Homo sapiens: one gene and its partners. Changing the gene in region 1 together with any one later gene gives a genetic interaction. Each region holds a gene or a part of one and is shown on either strand. Other genes may lie near its edges.

Region 1 (4,187 bases):
GGGACAGGGTGCAGGAAGTTTACAGTCTTAAAACTCAAAGGAAGCTTGGAGACATAGCTCTCGCCTTTAGTCCTCACTACTCAGGAGGCTGAGGCAGGAGGGCTGCTTGAGCCAGGAGTCACGGCTGTGTAGTGCCTTCTAATTGTGCCTCTAAATAGCCACTGCACTCCAGCCTGGGCAACTTAGAGACCCCACTTCTTAAAAAACCAAAAGAAGAAACCAAAAAACCCAAAGGAGATTCCATTTAAAACAATTGGCAATAGGAAACCAGTGTAGGTTCTTGAGCTCAGAAGAGATGATAAAAAGGTTTTCTCAGAAAGATGTTACATGACAGTGATATGAAATAACCCTAGCTTCAAAGCTACACTCCTATTACTAAGCCCTCTTCCTGGATCCTATAAAACTATGTGATCAGGTAAGCACATTAGAGAAGTCTTGTCTCTGCAGTTTTCAGCAACCATTCCCTAATTAAGATTCCTTCAGGTACAGCTTATTCTCCTATTCTCCATTCCCCAACTTTCTAATTGCTTTATTATACTCAGGCTGCTTGTCCCCTGAAAACATTTGTTTTCAATAGATAATCACCAAATGATCTCCATGGCTTTTTTTTTCTTAAGGTTCCCTGATTATATTTATGATTCAAACACAACCTCCTGGGTCCCAAACACATCTCTAGGTTTCAAAGATAATCAAATCAAGCCCATCTTAAGAAATCTTCTGTAAGCTTTACTCTCCTTGTTTTTCCTAAAGGGCTGCTTTACCTTTCTCAGAAATGTATTAGGCATCAGGAACTACTGTCGACATGTAGTTTGTCACAAAACATTATACATAACTTGAATGGCCCACCATGTACCAAAATCTCAGTTAACCTTATCCTAAATAAAACAGGAGACAAGGGAAATAATCTTTTAACACTCCACATTCAAATGTATGCAATTTAGAACTACTATTTCCACTAATTTCTTCAATTTAAAATATCAATAACAATTTTTAAACTCTGCAATTTGCAAGACTTTAATTTTAATTTCTCAATACTCAGGATTTATTTTTTGGTCAAAGTTCTGTAACATTTCCTCTGGTCACTGTTTAACCTTTCTGAAGCAATGAGAAAGGATTCTACTTGGAGTCCTAAGATGTATTTGAGTACCACACAGGGCCTATGTCCTTCCATCCTGAGAAGCATAAACTTGTTTTTGCCACTAAAGAATAGAGACCATTGTCCAATAACAAAAGTTATAAATATGACTCAAAATGAACCTGTGACAAAGATTTATTAAACTCACAATGGAACAAGCTGAATGGCTTAGTGTGCTCAAAAGCATTTCAGGAACTGAGCATAAACACTGAAGAAAGGATGGTAAGTTTGATAGGTTAGACAGAAAAATGGTTAATATTGGCCGGGCGCGGTGGCTGACGCCTGTGATCCCAGTACTTTGGGAGGCCGAGGCAGGCGGATCACAAAATCAGGAGTTCCGGACCAGCCTGGCCAATATGGTGAAACCCCGTCTCTACTAAACTTACAAAAATTAGCTGAGCGTGGTGGCGGGCACCTGTAGTCCCAGCAACTCGGGAGGCTGAGGCAGGAGAATTGCTTTAACCCGAGAGGCAGAGGTTGCAGTGAGCCGAGATCGTGCCACTGCACTCCAGCCTGGGCGACAGAGCAAGACTCTGTCTCAAAAAAAAGAAAAGAAAAATGGCTAATATCCTACAAGGCACTAAAACTACAACCTTTAGGAGTACTGTATTTTTTTCTCTCCCACTCAGAAATAATTTGCATCTCCATTAATGAAAAAGATGTTAACTACAAAGCCTAGGCCCTAATCAATATCATCATGCCAAACAAAATATAGTCCCCTAGACATCTAAATCATCTTCAGGTGGGCCTGTTAGGCTCCATTTTGACTCTGAAAAAAACATGCTGTCCTTTTGCCTTATTTCCAATACTTTTGTAATTTTTACCGCCACTAAAAGTTTCTATAAATCAGTCAACTATTCCTTTATCATTCTCCGGTCCTCCCCGCCAATTCTTGATTTTATAGGTTTTTTGGGAGGTTTAAAAAAAAAAGAAAGACCTGTTGGCTCTAAATATCAAGTTATTCCTCCTGATACTTAATCTGAAACTTCAAATTAAGTTGGACTCAGCCACTGGAAGCCCCAGTAATTTAATACTGTTTCAACCAAAGATTTGCTATCAGTATGTGGATTTTAAACACAAAGTAGTTACTACCCACTTCGAGGGTGCTTTGGGTACTGGGCCAGGTGTGCTGGTGACACCGTGTGCGCGACGGGGACCGGGTCCCCGAGGAGGGAGTGTCCTCGCCCTTCCCCGCTCGCGGCGGCCAGCACAGGCCTGCAGTTACCGGCGGGGACCCGCTTCCCCGGCCTTTTGTTCAGGACTGGGCTGTTTCCCGCCTACCCGCGCGTGCCCTTCCTCCCTGTCCTAGGAGTGGGGCAAGGACCGTGTGGGAAGCAGAGCCGGGAGGAGACAACCGGCAAGGGCTGTGGGGAATACTCACCCCTCTCCGCTCGGCCCCTGACCCCGCAGCCCAGCCCGGCGAGGGCGGGGCGACGGGGCCAGGGGGAGGAGAGCTGGGGAGAGGGACCCAGCGCCCTGCGAGGCCACTGCCGCGCCGGTGACCCTACGGAACTGAATGATGGGACTGCGGGGGCCTCGAGGGCGGAGGAAGAGCCGAGCCAGCGCGCCCCGAGGCCAACCAGAAGTGGCCGTGGCCTCCTTCAGTCAGGTCCGCGGCCTCCTTCAGTCAGGTCCGCCACGGCCGAGTCGGAGCGTGCGCACTGCGCCTTCCCGCGCCGTGGGGGCCGCCTAGCGCAGGCCGGTGACGTGATCGGCCGCGCGCTCTGGGCAGGGCGGGGCTGAGACCCAGGCCGGGACTGGGAGCGGGTGGAGAGGAGGGAAGCGAGACCTCCCCGCCGCCCGCGACCACCCCCGCCAAGGCCCCGCCCCTCGCCTGGCGGGCAGCTCTCCCCCGCCAACCCCCACCTCCAACCCAACGCAGGCGGTGCCCTCCGCGGAGCACAAAGGCGGCTCGTTGACGGGGGAGCGGGTTACTAGCATCCCCCTAAGAGGTTGGGGAACCATGCCAGCATGCTTACGCTACAAAAAGTCCTGTAAACACCACAATTAAGCACAAGCACGGCTACCCCTTGAAAACTTACGGATGGAGGGAGAAGTTAGGAATTCGAATATTGACAATAGTACCATCTGTGGCACATATCCCAGAGGAGAAAAAAAAAAAACTAGCAGCAAAATTAAATTGGGGCGAAACGATGGGGATAAAGACTAGAAAAAATGTAGGAGTAACAGGGGTAATCGAACTGAAATAGCAGACATCTGAAAGAAAACTAGCATCTGCTCCTTCTAACAACAGAGTTAAATTTGTTGGAAATGAAAGGAGAAAATGCAGGCGAAGAAGTGAAAGGAAAACCTGCCTTCAAACTACATGACATAGTTTTTTGATCTTGTACTACAGTTGTGTAAGATGTCACCATTGGAGGAAACTAGGTGATAGGTACACGGGACTCTAGGTGCTGTAGTATTTTTGCAATTTCCTGTGTCTATAATTATTTCCAAATAATAAGTGTTTTTAAAAGGAGAGAATACTGATCAGTGGCGACCAGGGCAAAGGGCTGGAGGAAGGGGGTGACTGAAAAGGAGCTTGAGAGCTTCTATACCGTGATTGTGTTGGTGACTAAACCACTGTTTGACAAAACCCATAAGAGGTATAAATTTTACTGCATGTGAAATAGTTTAAAACTCAAAATGATGCGACTAATAAAAATGAACTTACACTAACATTTTTTAGCAACTATGGATATAAATTAATTGGTAGCTGCCAATTTAGATTATCCATTTAATTTTTTTAAAAGCACAAGGCAGTGTGTTCTGAATGAGAGCTTAAGTAGACCAGGTGTCTCCATCAACTTTAAGTATTTACCTTAAAAACGTATTTCACAGATGAAAACAAGAATGCGGCTGGGCGCAGTGGCTCACGCCTGTAATCCCAGCACTTTGGGAGCCCGAGGTAGGAGGATCGCTTTAGCCCAGGAGTTCAAGACCAGCTATGGGCAAGGCAGTGAGACCTCATCTCTACAAAAATTTTTCAAAATAACAATAAATTTTTAAAAAAAGAATGCATTGCTTTACATTGTACTCCATATTTTAGAAA
Region 2 (3,262 bases), on another chromosome or scaffold:
TCAAGGCTGCAGTGAGCTTTGATCACACCACTGCACTCCATTCTGGGCAACATAGCAAAATCCTGTCTCAAAAATATTTATCAGTAGGAAATGCAGGAGGGCACAGTGGCTCATGCCTGTAATGCCAACGCTCTGGGAGGCCAAGGCAGGAGGATCACTGGAGGCCAGGAGTTCAAGACCAGCCTGGGCAACATAGTGAGACCCCATCTCTACAAAAAAAAATTATCCAGGCAAGGTGGTACATGCCTATAGTCCCAGCTACTCAGGTGGCCAAGGCAAGGGGATCGCTTGAGCCCAGGAGTTCAAGGCCACAGCGAGCAATGACTATGCCTCTGTACTCTAGCCGGAGTGGCAGAGCAAGGCCCTGACTCTAGAAAATAAAAATTAAAATGGTAAAAAAAAAAAAAAAAAAAAAGTTTAATTGCCAGAAGAATTCCTTCACTGAGAACTTGTCCATCCTGTGTTTCAGCATCAATTCAACCAAGAAATGAAGGAGCAGATTCAAAGTGGTTATTTTTATTATCTTACCTCCACTGGGTTTTCAGTCCCAATGGAGATTGTGAGACCTGGCAAGACCTTGAGATCAGTAGCATCCCTGAGGGGTAAACACAAGACTGGTCCACTGTCTGCTGCCCTGACTTTCCTACAACTCTTAAGAGGTTTGCAGTCCCCATTCCTCATAGCCAGCCATAGAAATCTTTCCCTGAAACAGGAAACACTTTGGGCAGCAGAGCTTCTCATCCCATTCCAGGTAGACAACCACACCCCTAAACACTCCTCTCCATAACTGAAGGTCAGAGGGTGAAGGGAATAGTCTCTGCTCTCTGTGACCAGGAACTTCACTCGTTCCTTTCCAGCATCATTCCTGCTCTCAAGCGCCTGAGTCTGGGCCTTTTCTACCTAGTGGGCTACACACTGCTCAGCCCCCACATCACAGAAGACTATCTCCTCACTGAAGACTATGACGTGAGTGTCTACTAAAGCAGCAGCAGCATGACTGCACCAGAGCTAGAAAATGGACAGGCAAGGATCCCTACAGATAGCAGAGAAGTAGGAAATATCATCTACAAGTGCATGTTGGTTTTGCTCTAGATCTGTGAGTTGTCAATGCCAGCCGTGCTGGGACATGTTCATCAGCCAGCACTGAACAACCTTCGCGGGCACAGGGCTGTGCCAGGTGCACATTTAGCACCCGTTGCCTTCTCTAGGAGCCGCTCCTAGCTTGCCTTATCACATCCACGTGACCCCTCAGAGCACAGCAGCTTCTGATTCTCCATCCTATTTTCTTCTCTTGACTGATACATTTGGGCACTTCTAGGGAATTCAGAAACCAAGGGAAGGGGGGAAGTGCTGGCTTTTGCTCCTGCCCAGCTGAAAGGCTTGAAAACAGTTCAGTAATTCTGGGCAGGTTTCTCTCCTTAAATTAAAATCCAATATGGGCCCCTCTGTACTTAACATTCCAAATGCTCATTCCAAACACTTTGCCAACGAAGGCAAACAGTAGAGAAGTTAAATACAGTGCTGCCCTTGAGGCTCTCCAAGGGAAAGGCGAATGAATATTCTCCAGGCCCTCTGCTTATTCCTCTCTGCCTATTGTGAAGGCAATCAGGCCAGACTATTGAGGGCATCTGGCAGCAGGACTCAGGCAGGTATGAAGTAGCCAGCCACAAGTGTGAAAAGGAAGAGTGCTGAGAGAAACTGCCTAGTCATGTGATATCCCTAATGCACTGTGCTTTCTTCCCTCAAGAACCACCCCTTCTGGTTCCGCTGCATGTACATGCTGATCTGGGGCAAGTTTGTGCTGTACAAATATGTCACCTGTTGGCTGGTCACAGTAAGTAGAAAAGTTGAAACAAGGTCCTATTTAGACAAGCCATGGGGGCCAGTATGGGGAGTGGCAAGAGCCCTAACTGAGCTATTCCCTCTCAGGAAGGAGTATGCATTTTGACGGGCCTGGGCTTCAATGGCTTTGAAGAAAAGGGCAAGGCAAAGTGGGATGCCTGTGCCAACATGAAGGTGTGGCTCTTTGAAACAAACCCCCGCTTCACTGGCACCATTGCCTCATTCAACATCAACACCAACGCCTGGGTGGCCCGGTGAGCTGCTGGTGGGGAGCCTGGACCCTGGTTCCTTCCTTCCACTGTCTTCCCAGATTGGAGGGCAGGGGTGTACCATGTCACCCCTATGCGTCTTTCCCATCTGGGCAGAACCCCCTGTCGCTCACACTGACTTTGACCCCCACCTATACCCCCCTCCCAAAAAAACCATTACTGTCATATTTGAAAAAAAGGCAAGATATAAAAGTGCGTTAAGACCTGGGTGTTACTCCAGCTCTGCCAATGGACTTATGTCCTCCACTGCCCTGTTTATCAACAGCTTTACTTGTTTGTCCCCACCACTAGAGTGTGGGCAGCTTGAGTAGAGTGTCTGGTTCACCACTGATCTCAGCATCAGCCTCAGTCACTGCTGCTGAACCAAGTGGCTCGTGCGCACACGGTCTCCAGCTCCGCCTTGGGTCTGCTTTCCATCTCTAAAAGTAATCAGTCAGCACTGCCTCCTGTACCCTCTGGGGGCTACACGTGGGAACCCACCAGCACTCCAATCCAATCCTCAGGGTGAGGACCCAGAGGCAGGTGGCGGGATGCAAGGACCAGTCAGTTTGAGGGTCGCCCCACCCACCCTTTTCTCCAGCTACATCTTCAAACGACTCAAGTTCCTTGGAAATAAAGAACTCTCTCAGGGTCTCTCGTTGCTATTCCTGGCCCTCTGGCACGGCCTGCACTCAGGATACCTGGTCTGCTTCCAGATGGAATTCCTCATTGTTATTGTGGAAAGACAGGTAGGCCTCCAGGGTGGGGGTGAAGGGGAATATAAGGGACAAGATGCTGATGAGCTCCTCCTCCCTCCCCAGGCTGCCAGGCTCATTCAAGAGAGCCCCACCCTGAGCAAGCTGGCCGCCATTACTGTCCTCCAGCCCTTCTACTATTTGGTGCAACAGACCATCCACTGGCTCTTCATGGGTTACTCCATGACTGCCTTCTGCCTCTTCACGTGGGACAAATGGCTTAAGGCAAGTGAAGGCCTGCTTGTGAGACTGGGAGGGACTCACTGCAACCTCAAAGGTTGCAAAGGACACTCCAGGCCTGTCTACCTTAGTGGCCTCTCTCTCCACAGGTGTATAAATCCATCTATTTCCTTGGCCACATCTTCTTCCTGAGCCTACTATTCATATTGCCTTATATTCACAAAGCAATGGTGCCAA
Region 3 (3,500 bases), on another chromosome or scaffold:
TAGCTGAAAGATTCTGAGCTTCTCTACCAAGTTCTGATAATACTTTTATTTCAATGGGCAACCCATGACAATCCCAGCCGGGCACAAAATGTATTTTGGAGCCATTCATCATATGGAATCGATTGGCTATGTCTTTCAAAATCTGCAAAGATAAAATGATAATTATCATTCATACATAAAATATTTGGCCATGTATTTCAAAATCTGCAAAGATAAAATGATAATTAGCATTCATACATAAAATATTTGGCCTACAATTTATGTTCTTTTTTTTAAACTTAATACCATTTTTAAAACTGCAATTTGAAAGGAAACGTATAAATTAACTCATAAAAAAACTATTGACACAAATAGTCTAATATTATTTATATTGAGCTAAGAAATATCATCAAACCATTGCAGAACTTACAGTGTACTCAGAGAATGGAATATTGTGGTTAACTCTGTCATTGACAAACCCTTACTAAAACAGTAGACCTCTTCATTAGGTATAGTTCTAGAACCAATTTACCTTTTTAAATTCATTTTAGATACCAGAGGGCAGCAGAGCCTTTTAAAAAATATATTACTATAGTTGAATGGAGGAATCAAAGGCAAAGGATAGATTTGGCTCCAAGCTCAATTTCCTTCTTCCCAAGAGGAAACAGTGCTCTGACCACTAGCCCAGTAGTCCAGAAAACAATTTCCTCCTTTCCATGCCTATCAAAAGTAGAAAAGATATTATTATATTCTCCTCCCATCCCTTCCCCCCTTTAAAAACTCTAATTTCAAACTGTTTACTAATGAACAGGAAGGAGCCTTGTGATCTGAGTGGTTGTCACATTAAAAAAAATTCATCTAGCTATACATACTTAAGATTGGTTCACTTTACTCTGGGTATATTATTTAAATCAATCATCATATAAATAACCTCCTTTCTACTTAACTCTTTGGAAATTGTTTACTTATTTTTTTGTCTCTTCCCTGTAAAACATAAACTCCATGAAATCAGAGAGCCCATCTGTCCTCTTCACCTATGAATTCCAGCCTTTCGAATGGTTTCTGGCACTAGTCTATAAATATTTATCAAATACATGAATACATGGATGCATATATGCTCTAAACAATGGTATCTTATATAGTAGCCACTGGCCACATGTGATTTTTGGTGCTAGTCCGAATTCAGATGTAATGTAAATTATAAAATATATACCTGATTTCAAACATGTTTTACGAAAATGTGATATATCTCAAAAATGTTTTACATCGACTGTATGTTGAAATGATACTTTAGATATGTTGAGTTAAATGTAATATTAAAATTAATTTCACTTGTTTCTTTTCATTATTTTCTGGGGCCACTAGAAAAATTTTAACTTACCTATGTGGCACAAATTTATAGCTTGCATTATATTTATTTCTTTTTTTTTTTTTTTTTTTTGAGACGGAGTCTCGCTCTGTCGCCCAAGCTGGAGAACAGTGGTACAATCTCGGCTCACTGCAACCTCTGCCTCCCAGGTTCAAGTGATTCTCCTGCCTCAGCCTCCTAAGTAGCTGGATTACAGGCACATGCCACCATGCCCAGCTAATTTTTTTGTATTTTCAGTAGAGAGGGGGTTTTACCATGTTGGTCAGGCTGGTCTCGAACTCCTGACCTGATGATCTGCCCGCCTCAGCCTCCCAAAGTGCTGGGATTACAGGCCAGACCCACCACGCCCAGCCGCTTGCATTGTATTTCTACTGAATAGTGTTGCTTTCAGTCATATGAACAGGATGAAATCAATCACTGGAACTAATAATTAACAGTGTACCTAATAAGGATTCTTAAATGTAATAATAAAATATAATATATGAAGCCTCTAGTGAAAAGAATAGTAGCAATATCATAGGAATATTTTACTAACTCCTCAGTATCAAACACCACCCTCCTTCTCCCCAAAAAAAGTTCCTCCATACTTTTAAGAGTCATTTATCTCTGTTCCTTTCATTTTTCTAATATTCATGCATTGCTTTGTTTGAGGGATAAATATCTGAATGCCTACTGTATGTCAAGAATTTTTCTAGGAACCTAGAATATAGTAGTAAACAAAAACGACAAGGTCTTTTTTCTCATGGAGGAACACAGAATATATACCAACATATCACACACTATGGAGAAAAAAGCAAATTATAGGGTTAGAAAATGACATTTAGGGGCTGGGGGTGGTACCATTTTAGAGGGAAGTCAAGAGAGCCTGGTAAGATGACATTTGAACAGAATCTGAAAGAAATGAGGAGGTGATCCATGTGAATATTCTGGTGATGCATTCTAGGAAGAGGAGAAAGCAAGCAAGACTATAATTAGCATGTGTGAGGAAGAGCAAGAATTGGTCCTTCCCTAGTTCCAAAGTGCCCATGCTCTTTGCTAAGGGCTTCAAGAAGGTTTCTCTTCATGTGAGAGATAGTTTTGTAAGATGCCACTGTTTTGGCCGGGTGCAGTGGCTCACGCCTGTAATCCCAGCACTTTGGGAGGCCGAGGCGGGTGGATCATGAGGTCAGGAGATGGAGACCATCCTGGCTAACATGGTGAAACCACGTCTCTACTAAAAAATAATACTAATAATACAAAAAATTAGCTGGGCATGGTGGCAGGCACCTGTGGTCCCAGCTACTCGGGAGACTGAGGCAGGAGAATGGCGTGAACCCGGGAGACGGAGCTTGCAGTGAGCCGAGACTGCGCCACTGCACTCCAGCCTGGGTGACAGCGTGAGACTCTGTCTCAAAGAACAACAACAACAAAAGATGCCACTGTTTTTTATGGAATTATTCCTTTGTCCTCAATCCACATGGAGCTGGCTCCCTCTGCTGCAGCTCCAAGAGTGAACACGTGATCCACTGTAGCCATTAACATATTCTATCCCCAAGTCTGCAATGACTGATTCAGAAATAGATGTGCGACCCAAATCAGGCCAATGAGATTCAATTCCAGGACTTTTATAAGAATTATTGGGGGCCAGACGTGGTGGCTCACGCCTGTAATCCCAGCACTTTGGGAGGCAGAGGCGGGCAGATCACGAGGTCAGGAGATCGAGACCATCCTGGCTAACACAGTGAAACCCCCTCTCTACTAAAAATACAAAAAATTAGCCGGGCGTGGTGGCAGGCGCCTGTAGTCCCATCTACTTGGGAGGCTGAGGCAGGAGAATCGCTTGAACCCGGGAAGCGGAGATTGCAGTGAGCCAAGATTGCACCACTGCACTCCAGTCCGGGCGACAGTACAAGACTCTGTCTCAAAAAAAAAAAAAAAAGAAAAAAGAACTGTTGGGAAAGAGAAGGTGGAATTATGTAAGCCTGAAACTACTGGGAAATGTGCTGGGGGTCTGGGGTGGGGCAGTCACTAAAGTAGCAAAGAGTGAGAGACAGAAACCAATTCTTAATTTTATGTGAATTCCTGATCCAGCTATGCAGGTGGCTAAAACTATCTGGACTCTACAGTAAAAAAGCCAGTAAATTCTCTCTCTTTGCTTAATCCAGTTAATGTT
Region 4 (3,500 bases), on another chromosome or scaffold:
GGAAGATGAGCGATGGGCCTAATGGATTAATTGCAGTGTTAGGAAAAGGCACTGTGACTAAGCAAAAGCAAAAATAAAAGGTAAACATTTTGGCAGGGCGCGGTGGCTCACACCTATAAACCCAGCACTTTGGGAGGAGGAGGCAGGCGGATCACCTGAGGTCAGGAGTTCAAGACCAGCCTGGCCAACATGACGAAACCCCATCTCTACTAAAAAAAAAAAAAAAAAAAAAATACAAGCCGGGTGCAATGACTCATGCCTGTATTCCCAGCACTTTGGGAGGCCGAGGCAAGCGGACCACTTGAGGTCAGCAGTTTGAAACCAACCTGGCCAACATGGTGCAACCCCATCTCTACTAAAAATACAAAAATTAACTAGGAGTGGTGGCGGGCACCTGTAATCCCACCTACTCAAGAGGCTGAGGCAGGAGAATCACTTGAACCCGGGAGGCAGAGGTTGCAGTGAGCAGAGATCGCACCATTGCACTCCAGCCTGGGCAACAAGAGCGAAACTCCGTCTAAAAAAAATGTAAACATTTCAAACATTTCCTTGACTGCATACCTTTTAAGATTCTTCCTGGAGAAAACATAAGTGGTATTCATTACATTTTCACCAGATTCCACACATCCAGCTGGGGAACAGGGAAGGGAGGGAGAGGAAAGAAAAGTCACTGTTTCAGCAAACTGTTCACCAACAGAAACTCAAGAGCCTTCAGGTCCGGTTTGCAAAATACTTCCCCCTGCAGTTATATTCTCTGGACAATGTTGTGACAGAGCACAAAAACATATATTCCGGCACTGTCTGTTCTCAGCCCTTACTCCAGTTCTACCTACCTGTCATCTCCACCTACCTGTGGGCAATCCCCGGGGACCTGGTTCTGATCTTGGGCGAGGAGAACATAGTGAGCCTTTGCCATAGGGCACCGTTGAGCCTCCAGGCAATTCCTCGATTGAAGCACCGTGACTAGATTCAGCTGCCCAGGCTCCTTTCTCCCTAGGACCCTCATCTCTATTTCCTGGATTCCAGCCTTGGATGCCATCCAAAGGCTGAGACTCGCCTTTCCCCAACTTCCCTATCCAGCCATGAGGCTGCCAGGAGACCTTGCCCTCTGCTGAAACCTCCAGCCTCCTTCAGAACCTGACTTCACTCTGGGGAACAGTCCCCATCTGAGAGCTCTTCTACACTCACCCCCTGCTGTACTTAAAACAGTTCAGCCCTGTCAGAGTGACCATCATACACTGCTGCTCTTGGAAACATCTCCCTGTTTTATGCTATTTCTTGATACATATACACACACGTAACTTTACATATGACTGTTTCATATCCACCAGGGAGGGCAGTAGACAGTATCAATAGTCTTTTTTATTATTATTATTAATACATTCTACATAGCTGCCCTCTTTTTTTTTTCTTTGAGATGGAGTCTTGCTCTGTCACCCAGGCTGGAGTGCGATGGCGTGATCTTGGCTCACTGCAACCTCCACCTCCCAGATTCAAGCAATTCCCCTGCCTCAGCCTCCTGAGTAGCCGGGATTACAGGCACCTGCCACGATGCCCGGCTAATTTTTGTATTTTTAGTAGAGAGGGGGTTTCACCATGTTGGCCAGGGTGGTCTCGAACTCCTGACCTCAAGTGATCTGCCCTCCTCCGCCTCCCAAAGTGCTGGGATTACAGGCGTGAGTCACTGCACCCAGGCCCCTCTTTTCATCCCACTCCATTCTTCCATCCCCAAGAAATCCATTTTAACATTCAACAAACCATTATGTCATCTGTATATTTCCTCCATGCTCACATAATCATTACAATCAGTTATAACTCAATCACATGTATACCTCTATGATATTTTTTATTGAGTCCATTTGTTTTACAAAACTGACACTTCTCCTTATTTTGCTTGTTTCAATCAACTACTCATGAAAGTTAACTTGCATAGCACTGATGCATTATTTTTTTGTAGCTGCATAATATTTACTGCAAGATTCATTCACCCAGCCTCTGTTAATGAGTATTTTTTTGGCTTTTGGTTTTTTACCACTATAAACAATGCTTGCAATAAGCATCCTTGAACATATACTTTTTTTTTTTTTTTTTAGACAGAGTCTCACTCTGTTGCCCAGGCTAGAGTGCAGTGGTGCGATCTTGGCTCACTGCAACCTCTGCCTCCTGGGTTGGAGCGATTCTCCTGCCTCAGGCTCTTGAGTAGCTGGGATTACAGGTGTGCATCACCATGCCCGGCTAATTTTTGTATTTTTAGTAGAGACAGGGTTTTGCCATGTTGGCCAGGCTGGTCTTGAACTCCAGACCTCAGGTGATCCACCCACCTTGGCCTCCCAGAGTGCTGGGATTACAGGCTTGAGCCACCATGCCCAGCCAGTTTCCAGTCTTAATTGGGTCTTCTCCATTCCTAGAATGTCCTCCTATATTTCCTTACAAGAGTTTTCTATTTTTACCTTTTGTGTTTAAGTACTGAATTCACCTGGAATTTATTTTTTACATCTAGGCAAGGGGTCCAATTTTACCTTCTTCCACATAGCTGGCTACCCCAGCACTACTCATTCAATAATAGAGTCCTCCCTTTGCAAGATCCATCTCTTGTACAACATGGTGATTATGGTTCATAACAATGTATTATATTCCTGAAAAATGCTAAGAGATATAAAGCGTTCAAACCACAGAAATCCTAATTATGTGAGACCATGCTATGCTAATTAGCTAGATTTAGTCATTCCACAACATATATATACTTCAAAACATCATGTCATACACAACTACATACAATTTCATCTGTCAATTAAAAAAAAAAGGAGGCCAGGTGCAGTGGCTCACGCCTGTAATCCCAGCACTTTGGGAGGCTGAGGCGGGTGGATCACCTGAGATCAGAAGTTTGAGACCACCCTGGCCAACATGGTAAAACCTCATCTCTACTAAAAATACAAAAATTAGCTGGGCATGGTGGCCGGCGCCTGTAATCCCAGCTACTTGGGAGGCTGAGGCAGAAGAATCACTTGAACTCAGGAGATGGAGGTTGCAGTGAGCCAAGATCACGCCAATGCTCTCAAGCCTGGGCGACAAGGGTGAAACCCTCTCAAAAAAAAGAGGAATAGGTCTTTGTCCAATCTCAACACTTCCCAACCTTCTTAATGACATACTCTTGTCCTATCTGCCTTCAGTGTCTAATTCTCTTGAGAATTATTTAAGTAACATACAATTAATTACAAATAAATAATAGATTTTTTTCCACTGGAACAGCACCTGAGGTCATATATTAAATCGCCTTATATCCTGAGATCTTTTTCTGGATTCTGTGTTCTGGTCCACTAATCTATTTGTTTGGTCCTATAGCAACACCATATTGATTGGCTAAAAGTAGTGTTATAGGATCTTCTGATATGTGGTGAGGCAAATGCCCTCCCAAGTATCACTGTTTTTTTTTTAATACTTCTTTGGCTATTCTTCAGCATTTATTCTACTAAACAAAGCTGAGATTTCATCCAATTAAA

The links. A genetic interaction does not mean that the proteins touch.
Region 2: of ATG10 (region 1) and EMG1, changing one suppresses a phenotype caused by changing the other (phenotypic suppression), as found in Homo sapiens cells (one large-scale study listed by BioGRID).
Region 3: of ATG10 (region 1) and IARS2, changing one enhances a phenotype caused by changing the other (phenotypic enhancement), as found in Homo sapiens cells (one large-scale study listed by BioGRID).
Region 4: of ATG10 (region 1) and CHAF1B, changing one enhances a phenotype caused by changing the other (phenotypic enhancement), as found in Homo sapiens cells (one large-scale study listed by BioGRID).

What each region holds. Positions count from the first base shown.
Region 1 is NC_000005.10:81,970,636-81,974,822, reverse strand, and holds the start of ATG10 (ubiquitin-like-conjugating enzyme ATG10), read right to left. Parts: upstream 2,801-4,187; 5' UTR 2,517-2,800; exon of another isoform or gene 2,232-2,516; intron 2,215-2,231; exon of another isoform or gene 762-2,214; intron 1-761. UniProt on the Homo sapiens protein: E2-like enzyme involved in autophagy. Acts as an E2-like enzyme that catalyzes the conjugation of ATG12 to ATG5. ATG12 conjugation to ATG5 is required for autophagy. Likely serves as an ATG5-recognition molecule. Not involved in ATG12 conjugation to ATG3.
Region 2 is NC_000012.12:6,977,175-6,980,436, reverse strand, and holds the end of EMG1 (ribosomal RNA small subunit methyltransferase NEP1), read right to left. Parts: coding exon of another isoform or gene 3,175-3,262; 3' UTR 3,071-3,174; coding exon of another isoform or gene 2,912-3,070; 3' UTR 2,840-2,911; coding exon of another isoform or gene 2,692-2,839; 3' UTR 2,097-2,691; coding exon of another isoform or gene 1,930-2,096; 3' UTR 1,835-1,929; coding exon of another isoform or gene 1,748-1,834; 3' UTR 967-1,747; coding exon of another isoform or gene 858-966; 3' UTR 501-857; downstream 1-500. Other genes in the region: LPCAT3 (lysophospholipid acyltransferase 5), read left to right, coding at 858-966, 1,748-1,834, 1,930-2,096, 2,692-2,839, 2,912-3,070, 3,175-3,262. UniProt on the Homo sapiens protein: S-adenosyl-L-methionine-dependent pseudouridine N(1)-methyltransferase that methylates pseudouridine at position 1248 (Psi1248) in 18S rRNA.
Region 3 is NC_000001.11:220,097,132-220,100,631, reverse strand, and holds part of IARS2 (isoleucine--tRNA ligase, mitochondrial precursor), read right to left. Parts: intron 143-3,500; coding exon 1-142.
Region 4 is NC_000021.9:36,405,892-36,409,391, reverse strand, and holds part of CHAF1B (chromatin assembly factor 1 subunit B), read right to left. Parts: intron 632-3,500; coding exon 562-631; intron 19-561; coding exon 1-18. UniProt on the Homo sapiens protein: Acts as a component of the histone chaperone complex chromatin assembly factor 1 (CAF-1), which assembles histone octamers onto DNA during replication and repair.